Homo sapiens: one gene and its partners. The protein of the gene in region 1 purifies or fractionates together with the protein of each later gene. This does not show direct contact. Each region holds a gene or a part of one and is shown in the gene's direction. Other genes may lie near its edges. The genes, in order: DPYSL5, PHAX, SAMTOR and RIMS1.

The links.
Region 2: the proteins of DPYSL5 (region 1) and PHAX fractionate together in Homo sapiens (co-fractionation; one large-scale study listed by BioGRID). This does not show direct contact.
Region 3: the proteins of DPYSL5 (region 1) and SAMTOR purify together in Homo sapiens (co-immunoprecipitation; one large-scale study listed by IntAct). This does not show direct contact.
Region 4: the proteins of DPYSL5 (region 1) and RIMS1 purify together in Homo sapiens (co-immunoprecipitation; one large-scale study listed by IntAct). This does not show direct contact.

Annotation. Positions count from the first base shown.
Region 1 is NC_000002.12:26,846,602-26,851,130, forward strand, and holds the start of DPYSL5 (dihydropyrimidinase-related protein 5), read left to right. Parts: upstream 1-1,530; 5' UTR 1,531-1,653; exon of another isoform or gene 1,654-1,896; intron 1,897-2,804; exon of another isoform or gene 2,805-2,899; intron 2,900-4,529. UniProt on the Homo sapiens protein: Involved in the negative regulation of dendrite outgrowth.
Region 2 is NC_000005.10:126,624,866-126,627,962, forward strand, and holds the end of PHAX (phosphorylated adapter RNA export protein), read left to right. Parts: 3' UTR 1-2,387; downstream 2,388-3,097. UniProt on the Homo sapiens protein: A phosphoprotein adapter involved in the XPO1-mediated U snRNA export from the nucleus.
Region 3 is NC_000007.14:112,818,610-112,822,015, reverse strand, and holds the end of SAMTOR (S-adenosylmethionine sensor upstream of mTORC1), read left to right. Parts: coding exon 1-272; 3' UTR 273-2,869; downstream 2,870-3,406. UniProt on the Homo sapiens protein: S-adenosyl-L-methionine-binding protein that acts as an inhibitor of mTORC1 signaling via interaction with the GATOR1 and KICSTOR complexes.
Region 4 is NC_000006.12:72,400,437-72,403,823, forward strand, and holds the end of RIMS1 (regulating synaptic membrane exocytosis protein 1), read left to right. Parts: intron 1-59; coding exon 60-278; 3' UTR 279-2,709; downstream 2,710-3,387. UniProt on the Homo sapiens protein: Rab effector involved in exocytosis. May act as scaffold protein that regulates neurotransmitter release at the active zone.

The DNA of each region.
Region 1 (4,529 bases):
TGTCCGGGCAAGCCCTGGAGAATCCATAGGGCAGTGCCCCAAGCTGGAGCAGTTTTCACAGCCACATCCCGGGCTGCACTGGGTTAGGGATGCTTTGAGGTTCCTCTGGGGGCTCCCTGCTCTCTGCTTACCAAGCAGGCGGGAGTTGGGAAGGGGAGAAGGAGTGCAGACTCAGGGGTGGGGTAATCCAGAAATGCATCCCTCAAAGGCCAGCCTGGCCTGGTCCAGGCCCTAAGCTCTCTGGGGAAGGACGGCAGGGAACCCCGCCTTGGCGGGCTCTGCGGGTCCTGCGCCCGGGTAGATTTTGCTGAGATGGGGAGAGGGGACCCCCTCCACGCCCCCGGAGTAGTGAACACCATTTTGTTTGAAAGTATCCTGCAAAGAGAACCACCTCACGAGGCCATGGCTGCCAGGGGACTCCTCTCCCCACCGGATCGCCGGGGAGCCCGGGGAGGGAGGGATTCTGCAGCTGCAGCTTGGAGGTCCTTGATGCTGCATTTTAACGCGCATCGCAACGCCTTTGGAGTGACATTAAGTGCAAAGAGGCAAATGACTAATCCAAACTATTATTACAACTGCAGAAAATAACACAGATCAATGGCAAAGGCTTGAACCGGGATTAGCTAGGGAGGTGGGACAAACCGGGGATGATCCTTCCTCTCCTTTTTTAGATTTGTTTATTTTGGTAAATTATGTATGTATTTAAACATGAAGAAACAGGTGAAGCGAATGTAAATTGGGTTATAAATAATTTCCAAAGGCTTCGCTGTCCCTTGACAGAAGCCAGAAATAAGACAGGCACTGGGCCTGAGCGCTCTGGACAGGGAAGCACCCGCGTGGCGCTGGGCAAAATCTTCTCAGTGGAGAGAACGCACTCCGGGTTCGAGACCTCCCCGGGTGCAGATGCGAACTGCGGTGGCCCCAAGTGGCCGTCCACTTTGTTCATGAGAACAGTTTTCCTATAACGCCCACCCGGCCCTTTGCATCCCGCAATCCCGCGGGCGTCGGAGCGGGTCTTGGCGCGAACCAGGCGGCCTCGGCGGGGTCCTGCGGCGGAGGGCAGCGCGGCCGCAGCCCGGGAGAGGCGGCCGCGGCATTGTTTCAGCCCCTGGGGTGGGATCCAGCTGGGGGAGGGGAGGCGGGGTGTCCTCCGGAACCGCCCCCGGCCCTCCCTGGGGACCCGTGCCTCAGCGCGTCCAGGCTTTGTGGTGTCCTGAGTCGCCATGGAAACCCGAGGGAACGCGGAGCCGGGTGCTAGGGGGGTCGGTGAGTTCTCCGGCCGCGCCCTCCGTCCGCTCTCGGACCCCGGCCCTGCAGCAGGGCCTGCCGGGAGTTGTAGTCCCCAGGCGGCGGCGGCGCGCGGCGCCAAGGATGCGGGACGCCGCCTGTCCCCGCCTCCCCTTAACCTGCTAGCTGAGGTGGGGAGCGGCGGGAGGAGCCGGCCGCGCGGTGATTGGCGGAGGCCGCTCCCAGCCCCCGACACGCGCCCCTCCCCCGCTCCCCACTCTGGACTCCCGCGCTGGGCGCGCTGAGGCGGCCCCCGAGCGAGCGCGCGTGCAGCCGCCGCCGCCCCGAGCACCCGCAGCTCCGGCGCCGCGGCGAGACGGAGACGGACCGAGCCACGGGCCCCCGCGGCCGCAGCATCTCGGAGGAGTGGGTGATGGCAGGGGGGTCGGTGGGCTTACCCCTCCCGGGCTAGGACATCCTCCTCTCCCCCTTCTGTTTCTGCGTGAGGCGCACAAAAGGGCGGGGAGCCGGGTGAGCCTGGGGCCCGGCCGCAGGGGACGCGGCGGGAGGTGTGGTTTGGGGTTGGGAGGTGGCCATCGGGGCTAAGCCGGGGCGCTCTTGGGGTCCTCTTTGTACGCCCGCGAAGCGCCGTGCCGGGCCTTGCTCATAGTAAGCGTTTAATGCGTGCTCGCGGGGTTGCAAAGCCCTGGGGTGAGGAGGCGGCTCGGCCGAGGGGTTTCGCGCCTAGCACGCAGTGGGCCGCTTTCCTAGCCGGGCGCGGTGCAGTGGACCGCTGGAGGGCTGGGCGGGGGCGCCTCTGGCCGGGGGCCAGTCCTGCCGGTCCCAGGATCTGCGCTGTCCCCGGTCCCACACACCACCCAGATACACACCCTCCGTCCTTCTCGCCTCCGAGCTGGGATCTGCCCAGCCTGGACCCGACCCGGCGGTCTGTTCCACCGCCCGGCTAACGGAGCGGACGCCTGCAGAGGACTCGCCCGCCGCCTCCGAGCCTCCCGCCTGAGCCACAAAGGCCTCCTGCGGCTGCCCAGCCCGGAGCGGGCGCCGAGCCGGGTCCCTCGGCTGGAGCCCAGCGCGGGAGCCCGCCTTGCAGCATCGATCTCAGCGGGCACCGACGTCGACGCCCCGGGCCTGGGGACGGGGCTGTAGTCTGAGCTGGAGAGAAGCCGGGAGAGGGCGAGGGGAGGCCTCGGTTGAGAAAAGATGGGGATGGGGAAGGCTGGGGAGCTGGGTTAGGACAGGTAGTGGGTCTCGGGGAGCAGGGAGTGGGAACTAGGGTTTGAGGAGGAAAGAGAAGGGGCGGGGGCGGGTCCGAAGAACGAGGGAAGGAGCTCGGTGCAGGTGGCGCCCGGCGAGGCTGGTTCTGCTGAAGAATGGGGAGGGGAGGAGGGATGCAGGCGGGTGGAGGCCGCCTGGGTTTGAGGAGGGAGGACGGGAGCGAGGAGAAGACCCGCGCTGTGCGGGGGAGGGGGGCCTCCTGGGAAGGGGAGCCTCCCGAGGAGGGAGGGGCAAGCAGCTGAGAGGCGGTCTCGGGCCCGAGGATCCTCAGCTCCAGGCGCGGGGCCCCGCGGCCCAGGTGGCCGGCTGGGCGTGGCCCTCGGACCGGGGTTAGGGACCCAGGATGGCAGATCCGGGACCGGGCTGGGCTGGCTTGGTGAGGAGCTTTGTCTCCAGGCTTGAAACCAGCCGGTAGCGACTCGCTTAGGGTTTTGTGATCTTCCGCGGCGCCCACGGCACGCCCTTTTCTCGAGGAGCTGAAAGGCTTTGCCCAGCAGCAGGTGCTGCCAGGGAGGCGGATCTCCCTTCGGGGAGACCCGGAGAACAATAGCCGACCCTGGTGTCCATCCGACGACAAACCAGGGCCACCCAGGACGCGAGGGTGCAGTTTTCTGGTGCTGGGAATACTCCCTGCGGAACCTCCGGGCACGTGCTGGCTTTGGGGTTTTATGGGGGCCTGGCCACGCCGGGAATCCCGTGTGGGAGGCGCTCCCCCGGCCTGGGGGCCTGCAGACAGCCACCCCCCCACTCCGGCTCGGGTGCCTTCTGGTGCAGCGCCGCCGCCCGCCCCGCGCTGTCCACCCGCTGCCGAGACGCGGCGTGGTTAGCGGCGCGGAGCTGCCGGGCGGCGACGCAGGTGCCAAAGACTGGAGGTCGCCTCGGTGCAGCGCGGGTTCCCCCGAGCAGCGGCTTTGTCTGCCGAGGCGGCCGTAGTCTAGGGGCTGCAGCTGTGCTTTCTCAGGGGGAGCCGTAAGGGCTGGTGCGGATTGTGGTCAAATTGCGGAGAAGCGGGTGGAAATGATCCCGCAAGGGTGAGGCTCTAGGTTTGGGAGCCGCTGCTAGGGGTCCAGTGCTTTTCTTTGCCAGTGACCACACCCAAGCCAGTGCGTCTCTTGCAGACTTCGCCCATATTGTCTGCTGACCTAAGACTGGGGTAGCTCTGTGATAGGCGCTGCTTGCCCGTGGGAAAGCAGATGAACCGAATGGAAGCTTAAAACAGGCTTTCAGCAGGGCTTTCCACGCACTCAGCCTCTCGCCCGCCGTCTAAACACCTTGCAAGTCACCGCTGCAGCGCCTTGACATGTGAAGTGACACCCAAAGCCAGAATTCTGTGTTGCACTGTTGCTTTGATAACTGGTTAGATGACAAGTTAAAGGTGAATCTTTAGCATAAAGTTATCATTTTAAATTGCCATTCATTAAAAAAAAAGGCAGGAATGTTTTTGTTCCCAGACTGGGCGATACTTGGCATTGTAGAACTCATTGATGCCACTTACATTTGCCACTAAGTTAACTGAGAACCTGTTGGTTCTCTTAACCCAGCCTTGAAATCTCAGGATTTGCTTTCTTAACAAGATTAGTGTGTAAGGTGAAGGACTGTGCTGTGGCTGTTGGCTTTTGCCCAGGACAGATGATAGCTGTCAAAGTGAAGGCCTCTTGTCTGAGTGTCCTTTCTGGCCATAGGGAGTCAGCAGTAGGCTATGTCTTGCTGGTTTTAAAGGATGGTGTTTTGAGGAGGTGCCTCACAGAATTTACAAAACTGATCTGGAAGGACTAGCTGGAACATTGCTCATTGGTTGTTTTTAACTATATTTTAACTGAATTATATATATGTATATATTAATATGTATATACACACATATATATATACACATACTATATTTTACTAAATTATATATGCATGTGTGTATTTATGCATACACACAAACATGGATTCAGAGTACATAAATACTAGGAATCTCAATATTAGAAACCTAGAAATCTGACAGTGAAGGTTTTTTCTTGTAA
Region 2 (3,097 bases), on another chromosome or scaffold:
GACTAAGCCTTTCTAAAATAACATTGTAATAAACCATTTTTACTGAGATTGCAACGTTTTGCACTGATAAACATGAGAATCTGGAGGAAAGACAATTGTTTTCTTGTTTAAAATATGTGTGGAAAGGAATGCAATTGATAGAACATTTAAAGATATATCTGACAAAATACTTAAGAGTATATAGCACAGGATTTAATTTCTCAATCTGTTGCATGTGCTAATTATGAGTATTACTAGTTGATAATCAGTTTTGTCTAGGTCATAACATACCATTTGTAAGTTTGTTTGCTTTTTCAGGTTTATCTTTGCAGTGAATTATGCTTTGCTTTAAAACATTCCGCTAAAATCATAATGGGACATATAAATTATTAAGCTGTTAGAAATGCATTCAAATTTGTTTTTTCTGTGTTCTAAGAACTCAGGCAATTTTAAGGATAAAAACTAACATTGGCCAGGCACGGTGGCTCACGCCTGTAATCCCAACACTTTAGGAGACCAAGGCGGGCAGATCACTTGAGGTCAGAAGTTTGAGACCAGCCAGGCCAACATGGTGAAACTTCATCTCTACTAAAAATACAAAAACTAGCCAGGTGTGGTTCTCCATGCCTATAATCCCGGCTACTCGGGAGGCTGAGGCAGGAGAATCACCTGAACCCGGGAGGCAAAGGTTGCAGTGAGCTGAGATCGTACCACTGTACTCCAGCCTGGGCGACAGAGCAAGACTCTGTCTCAAAAAAAAAAAAAAATACAATTAAGAGGTGTATACTGATGATTCTTCCCACTCATTTGTTTGTCCAGAAGTAAATAAATGTCGGAAGTTTTCCAAGTAACTATTTGTTTTTTGGGGGGTTTTTTAGTTAGAGTCTTGATCTGTCACCCAGGCTGGAGTACAGTGGCAGGATCTCAGCTTACTGCAGCTTCCATCTCCCAGGTTCAAGCGATCATGTGCCTAAGCCTCCTGAGTAGCTGGGATCACAGGTGTGTACCACCACGCCCAGCTGATTTTTGTATTTTTAGTAAAGACTTTCGCCATGTTGTCCAGGCTGGTCTCGAACTCCTGGCCTAATGATCTGCCCACCTCTGCCTCCCAAAGTGCTGGGATCACAGGCATGAGCCACCGAACCCAGCCTTATTCTGCTTAAATTTAACGTGTTTTTTGACTTCTTAATTAACTTGGTCATATACTAAATGTGATCTCCTGTGGATTACCACATGCATTAAAAAATTTTTCAAGCTGGGCCTAGTGGCGCACACCTGCAATCCCAACACTTTGGGAGGCCAAGAGAGGAAGATTGCTTGAGCCCAGGAGTTTGAGACCAATCTAGGCAATGTAGTGAGACCCTGTCTCTAATTTAAAAAAGAAAAAGAAAAAAACATTCCCAGTGGCAGCCTGCCTAAGACTGTCTTACCTTATGTTAAGGAAGTCAGGTATTTAAAATGTTACATATGCCGGCGCAGTGGCTCATGTGTGTAATCCCAGCACTCTGGGAGGCTGAGACAGGTAGATCATTTGAGGTCAGGAGTTCAAAACCAACCTGGTCTACATGGTGAAACCCCATCTCAACTAAAAATACAAAAAATACAAAAAATTAGCCGGGCGCGGTGGCTCACACCTGTAATCCCAGCACTTTGGGAGGTGGAGGCGGGTGGATCACAAGGTCAAGAGATCGAGACCATCCTGGCCAACATGGTGAAACCCTGTCTCTATTAAAAATACAAAAATTAGCTGGGCGTGGTGGCGCATGCCTGTAGTCCCAACTACTAGGGAGGCTGAGGCAGGAGAATCACTTGAACCCAGGAGGTGGAGGTTGCAGTGAGCCGAGATCACGCCACTGCACTCCAGCCTGGCGACAGAGCGAGACTCCCTCTCAAAAAAAAAAAAAAAAATACAAAAAATTAGCCGGGCATTGTGGTGCATGCCTGTAATCTCAGCTATTTGGGAGGCCGAGGCAGGAGAATCACTTGAACCCAGGAGGCAGAGGTTGCAGTGAGTCGAGATCGTGCCACTGCACTCCAGCCTGGGTGACAGAGCAAGACTTTGTCTCAAAAATAATAATAGTAAAATGTTACATGTGCATGAAGTTTTAAATTACTCATTTTTATTAATGAAGAAAATAAGGTAGTTTAGACATTCCAAGAGTTAACTATAGTTTACAAAAATATATTAAGCAAAAATATGCTTGATATATTAAGCAGAAATGTTGTATATTAAGCAAAAATGTAAAATTCAGCAATTATAAACTGTTCCTTACAGACAGTGTACTTGAAGTCTTTTGGTAGTTCTGAGAATGTGGTCATTGAAGTTGGATCTAAGAGGAAAGTGGTTATCGGTTGCTTTTTATTTATAAAGGATGCAAAAATAAAATTAGATTTTTGGCAGTCCTTAATGAGCTTCAAGTGATTATATTTTTAAATCTTGAATGTTTTTTCATAAAAATGCTATAGCCAAGAAAAATATTTTTAAAAGGTAATTGGATATTGACCCTAAGACAATTTATGGGAGGTGATTTTAGAAATAGTACATTAAGAAAGATAATTATTCTGAATACTTAAATGCCACATATTAATGTAAATATTGCCAATTTTTCTAGCAAAAGTTATGCCTTTTAAAGGGCGTTGATGCCTGAAGCTACTTTATCTTCATCAAGATTGTTTCTTCCCCACACCTTCCTGGTTTTTTAGCAATAGTTGTTTTTTTTTTTCTTTTTCTTTTTTTTTAAGACGGAGTTTTCACTTTTGTTGCCTAGGCTGGAATGCAATGGCACCATCTCAGCTCACTGCAACCTCCGCCTCCCGAGTTCAAGCGATTCTCCTGCTTCAGCCTCCCAAGTGGCTGGGATTACAAGCACACGCCACCACACCCAGCTAATTTTTTTGTATTTTTAGTAGAGACAGGGTTTCACCATGTTGGCCAGGCTGGTCTCAAACTCCTGACCTCAGGTGATCCACCTGCCTCAGCCTCCCAAAGTGTTGGGATTACAGGCATGAGCTACCACGCCCAGCCAATAGTTGTTTCTTTAACATTTGGAAACCACTCAGATTTCTGGCTTGTGTTGCATCCTACTGCCATACAGAAAGCAGTGCTTCAATTTTTAAG
Region 3 (3,406 bases), on another chromosome or scaffold:
TGGCATTTAGGAAAATCTCTCTAAAAACCACAAGTGACTTGGTTAGTAGGAACTACCCAGGAATGTTATATATTCCTCAAGATTTCAACAGTATAGAAGATGAGGAATATTCTAACCCTTCCTGCTATGTTCGATCAGATATAGAAGATGAACAACTAGCATATGGTTTCACAGAACTCCCTGATGCGCCATATGACTCAGATTCTGGAGAAAGTCAAGCCAGCTCTATTCCTTTCTATGAGCTAGAAGACCCCATATTACTTTTAAGTTAATATAGAAGCAAAAAGCCCCTTTCAGTCCAGGCTCCTAAACTAATTGCTTACACCAATTGGAAATACTAACATGAACTCAGTACTGAAAACCTGGTTTGCATAAAAGAAATGCAGAGGTTTACAGAGTTTGCTATTTTTTTCTACTTCTCAATTTTAAAATTTATTCTTATATAGAAAGCTTAAAGTTTCATGCAGAGTGACTCATGTCATAGCAGAAACTACTGTTACTTTAGCATTTAGCACTATCATAGAAAGGTACCTTTTTCTCTTTAGTGCTATTGTGAAAACAAGCATAATTTGCTATATGTTTTCCTTTTCAACTTTTCAGTGTTGACTATAAACCATTGAATGGAAAACTTTAAGATGTAGAAAGCTGTAGATTGCACTTTGATGACTCACAAGTTAAATGTGATACAGAAAAATAGATCGGTTAGTTGTTTTGTGATGCACTTATCTTTTTCTTTTTTCTAACTAAAATTGTGATGTTACAGAAAGTCATTTTATGTTCCTTTTTTGTCTGATGATCCAATATTTACTGAACTTTTTGTAATTGGTGATAATTCTTTTTATTTCTTCCTTATATTAAAAGCTCATTTGACAGCATCAGACATTGGGGGAGAGATGTCCCCCAAAGTGTGTATTCTAATTTTATTAGCCCTATCCAATAAACACCATTGCCAAAGTAGTATTTTCATAACTTTCTTGTTGATTTGGGCCTTGGTGTGAAGTATATTTACCTGAGAGTTCACTTTTACTTTTCTTAAACTTAGGCTTCATTTACAAAATGTTTTATTTAAGCAAGGAACAATGTAATACTCAATAATGACCTAAAACACCTTTTTGAAAGGGTTTGCACTTGGAAGAGAGTTTATGTTCTGTTGAAACCAACTTTGATAGGGTCCTCACCTTTCCGTTAAGGAGGTGCCGCACTACAAGTTTCAAATTATATGGAAAAACCTAAAATTAACCCTCTGTTGGTGATCTCATAAAATGGTTTTGACCTTTTGGTATCTTAATTTCTATCTAAACTTTATCAGAAAATTTTCTTTGAATATATCAATTAGTTGGCTGTGGGAATTTTCCCTTTCCACATTAATAAATGCCTTTCTGTGTTTCTGAATCAGAAGCAAATGATTAGGGAAAAATATATGTCCAAACAAGACAAGATTAGTTTAAACAGTTAAGAACATTTAGTCCACATTGTCTTGTCAGCCAGCAATTGTCATGGAAGCTATCATTTTTAAGAGTGCCACTGTGTGGATTTTTTTTTCAAGTGGTTATTACATTAAAATTACCTCATACTGAGGTTTTTGCACTGAAATATCACAGTTTCAGATTTCATGGTTAATGTTGTGCGTATGTTTGTATGTTTTTAAAGGAAACTTGCATTTTCAATAGTTGATCCTAAATTTCATAAACTGCACTTCTTTACTCTGGTAAAGCTGATGTTTTTGTGCTTATTGTGAATTGCCGTAGTACCTTTGAATGTCAAACTTTATTTAGAAATATAAAACTTATCCTTTATGATATAAATGGTTGAGTGTATGTACCCAGTATTTCTAATTAAATTTCACATGCTAAATTAATGAAAGTAACAAGATTGTAATTTTTTAAAGTCAGTTGATTAAATGCAATAAATATTGGTTGCTCAAATATGCCACAAATAACTCGAAATTTTTCATTTACTTTCAACAGCATAAGATTCTTTAATATTTAGGATTGACTGTTCTTTCCAGTTAAGCACTGAAGGATTATGTCTTGTAGCTTCCCCAAGAGAAGGGGAAGGAAAAAAAAGCACTATGTTAAGGATAATACAGAACTCTTTTGAACTATTTTGGTAGTACCTTTTACCATACTGTTTGCTTTTTGATTTGGGTAAATATCTTAAGAGCAAAGAAAACAATACACCAAATGAAAATGCTTTGAAAGTAAATGAAAACAGCGCTTTTGAAAGGCTGGTATAGTATGACCCTGGAGTCAGCCTTTGTGTTACAGCGAAAATGTTGGTGCTATAAATTCTGATTGTTTACAGATGTTGATTCTGCTTATGCTCCAAAGTGTGCATGATGTATTTTACGTAGTACTCTGAGGAAGTCTCTTTATAAAACCTACTACCACTTAGTATAAATTTGTTTGAATTTATATCATTTGTTACTGTAAATTCAGCTTATTCCAATTAGGTTGGCACAGATTTAAACTGATACACATTCCACAAAAACCAATTCAGTGTATAAGTATTGAAGTATAAGCAGTCATTGCAGCTTGATGCCAGATCATGTATGTAATAACAAGTGGAAGTTAATAGGGCCTTCTAATACTGTATGGGTACTCCTAAGAATTATTTCATTTTGGATATAAAGAAGTTATGAGGCCTCCTGTCACATTCACAGCTGGTTCTCCAAAATAATTTGGTTGTTTCAAAAACAAATGGTAATCATTTGGTTGGATTCTTCAGTATCATGACTAGATCATGTGGTTTTACCATAGTTGCCAAGTGGTGGGAGGTAGCATACCTGAAAATGTACGTGTGTGTTTGTTGTATTTTTTCACATTTTGTGAACAAAGCACATTTATTAAAAATTTTAAATTTTCTAGTATTCTTTGTCTGTTACTTGTAAACCGAAAGTTCTGTGGTCTTTGATGTATCTCACTAAGTGATTTCAGCATTGGGAAGCAATTTAGAACTTGAGTGACTTGTACAATTTTCCCACTGGGTTTCATTTTTGTTAAATCCCTTAATGTCATAAATTTATTCACTGAGATCCAGAGAACTCAGGTGACTTCCCATTGTCATGTTTTGTCATGTTTATGGCAGAAGCAGGGCAACAGCATAAATTCTACTTTATTGTATGTCAACCATATCATATTCTTTTTTTTTTTTTAAGTAAGCTACATAATTTATCAGCTCTTTCAGGACAGCAGATGTCTTCCTCATGATATGAAAGGTTTTTTGTTGTTGTTGTTTATTAAACAAATGTTTGAATTCTGCCATGTGCTATATGCTGGGAAAGCAGCAAGGATTGGAGTGATCATTGTCCCCTGCTCTCATGGAGCTTATGACCTAAGAGTGAAGACAAGCATGCTACATGTACTTAGTATCTGTATCCAAGAATGATTACCTGCTGATGCTACAG
Region 4 (3,387 bases), on another chromosome or scaffold:
CCCTTCGAATGTGAAGCAGAGAGAAGTCCAGGTAATGTTGCATTTCTCTATCTCTGCAGGTGATTGTCTGGGGAGACTATGGCAGAATGGACCACAAATGCTTTATGGGTGTGGCTCAGATCTTGTTGGAAGAACTCGACCTGTCCAGCATGGTGATCGGATGGTACAAATTGTTCCCACCGTCCTCACTGGTGGATCCCACACTCACTCCCCTCACCCGGCGGGCTTCCCAGTCATCTCTGGAAAGTTCAACTGGGCCTCCCTGTATTCGATCATAGTGAACTCATACCAGAGTCATTCCAATAAAACTCTACTTTTCAGGATAATAATCTGAACCAGATATTTCATGATCGAAAGCATTGTTGGAGACAGACAATCAACTTGTGTTTTGCCTGTAGTAGTTTTTCAATAATATGTCCCAATTGTTATTTAAAACATGGCTTCATATGACAGAACAAGGCAATCTATCAAATTTACAGGAAGAATCAACATGCTGGTGAGAGTCACTGATGCTTCTAACAAATAGAAAAAGAGGAAACTTTAAATCCACGCATACACGTACACACACACATGCACACACACACACACCAAATTGAACAAACTGGAAACTCTCACTCTGTGAAAAGTTGTATTCTACACATTTCTGCACAGACCACAAGCAGTGTTATTTCCCTGATGTTTGAGTTGTTTTGTTCTTTTGTGTGTTTTGTTTATTTGTGTGTTGTTTGTTGGTTTTCGTTTCTTGAGTTTTTGTTTTGTTTTCACCACATCTGTTATTTCCACTAGTTTTTTTTTGGCTGTGTCATGACAGGCCTCATGATGCTAACAGAGATTCTTCCCTTCTTTTTTCCAAAAGCACCAAAAAAAAGGGCTGAAGTAGTCTCTGTAGCATCTCCCCAAAGTGTTAAACAGCTACATAAGGTGAAGCCAAGGAAGGGTTTCACTAGCTTTCATTTTATAATTATTTAAAGTCTTATGTGTGGATACCCAAGAGACAAAAAGTTATCTTCCAAAATAAATAATCACAGAAGTACTTTTTTAATGAAGAGCCTATCTGTTTGCATTCTAGAAAATTAATTTATGGTTTCCATTGTTTTGCATGGAAGACTTTTAAAGAAGTCAATCTGCAACTAATGCTGGGGACTAAAACTAACTGCATAATTGTACTTTGAAAACACTCCTTGTAATGCCTTTTTCTTCCTGATATTAAAAAAATGCTCATGTGTATAAACCATACTTTGACTTCCCAAAAATGGTGACTAGGAATGGATTTGAGCCTAAGACACTTTGAGCTATGCCCAGGCTTCTCAGCCATACCTCAGTGTAGACACATCCATCTGCCCTGGAAAGAGCATGGTATGAGCTGTTCAATATTCCACTGGAAATTCCAGTTGAAATATTCTGCACTAAACTATTGTTTTTATTGAATTTTAGTTTACATTTCTTTGAGATTGATGCAAGCACAAAGCTTGATTTTTTAATGCAAAGTATCTTACTTTTTGGGGGGAAAATAAACAAAATGAACTTTCAATTTGCATTTTCATTTAGTTTCTCTTGGCCTTGAATTTCCCTTGTGACATTCTGTACATGTGCTACAAACTGCAGTCTCTGCAGGTGCATTGATATGTTCTCCCTCCTTTTATGAGTCACTCCACTTTTGTGATTACACAAATAGAGCAGCATGACTTGGAACTGTTCAGAGCTGCATGCACATTTTGTAAAAAAAAAAAATTTTAAAAAGAAAAGAAACAAAAGGTTATTTAATAATGTATGTTAGTTCCACATAGGCCAGCTTGTATGTTGCATGTACTTGTACAGTTTGCTTGTTAATTACTATACCGAAATAACCAAGAAATCTAAGCCATCCACTTTTGTTATAGACATTTTGCAGGTTTTAGCCAGACTCAGTCTCTGGGTCTGTGGTGAAATGTCTATAGATGGACTTTATTTTTTACCCTCCGGAAAACGTGATGTAGTACGGACCAAATTCCTTCTAATAAATATTTTGGTGTAGATTCCTACTGTGGGGCTGTAACACATGTAGACACTGTGTACACACTAGGTTTTAATTCATAGACATACTGCCTGCACCAAGTGAATTATTTATTATTATTTACACATGCCAGAATTATCTGCCCATCATTCCACAGGGCACAGATTGACCACTGCTCACCATGCTGAGTAGGAGGAACTGAAGCATTGGTGCACTTCTACTAGATTCCGTTCTGTCTTAGTGGCCAACAATCAACTGATTATAATTGGGTAGTATCTTTCTATTTTGACCACTTGTCTTAACACTCCCCTGTGCTTTTAAATGAAATTCCAATTCATGTATGTAAACATGTTTAATAAAATTTACTTTTCATGTCAGTCAGTAGCCATATGTGTTCTATGTCTTGCCAGATTTCCATTGTGGGTTCTATGGTGCAAAATGGGAGCCAGGCCATGGGAAGGGGAGGCTGGGGTTTGTTGTCTGCTGCGGGCATTTGACTTGACTTGTCACTGCACTATATTATGTCTTAATCGATGGCCCAAAGGGTACTTTGCATCACATACAAGTTTTCACTTCGTCAGCCTGTCTAAGTGAGCACATGACTATACTTCTGAAAAGTGGCATTATTAAAAATAATAAATCTCAGTAAGAATCAAATGGAAGGTTGTTTTCTGCTGCTGTTTGAATGTGCTAATAAAAGAGACAACTCTATTGTCCAATTGCCAAATTATTTCAAGTTACGTGACATATCAAAAAATTGATTCCTGCGTCTCTCGTCATAGTATATTTCCTCTTTCCATCTTTTTCTTCTGAACCCATGACTAATTTATATAACTTTGGTTTAGAGGAGACCAATTTAACAAAAAATAAGCACTACATTTACACTGAATTATCTTTAATAGAATCTTAGATAATAAAAGTATCTTCAAATATAGATAGATATCCAAAATAATATATTCAAAGAGACATTATTAACTTTTTAGGTTATTTTATTATTTTTTCTTACCTGAAAGTGTGCTCATGTATTTAATAATCATCGCCTCTCATGAAACACTTGGTAAGCACTACTTTCATCTTGCATTGTAGTAAAATAACTTTTGTGATCTAGTCTTGTCTTTCTAAGAGCTCTTAACTTTTTATAGACCACGCTGGCTTTAACTTGTAAAGCAAAGTAAACACAGTTACATCAACATAAAATTTGAGGCAATAAAGAGTTTGGAGACATGAATGCATCAGTTATTTATAGTTTTTAAACAGTTGACTGAATTTTACCCTATTAAATCATCCATTTGTTTGGTCTACAAGACACAAGATTATCTGTTAGGCTGGGTCAGTAAGAGGCAAAAACAACTGGTCAGTTCAATTTAAAACAGTCAGATTTAAAGCTGTTTGAT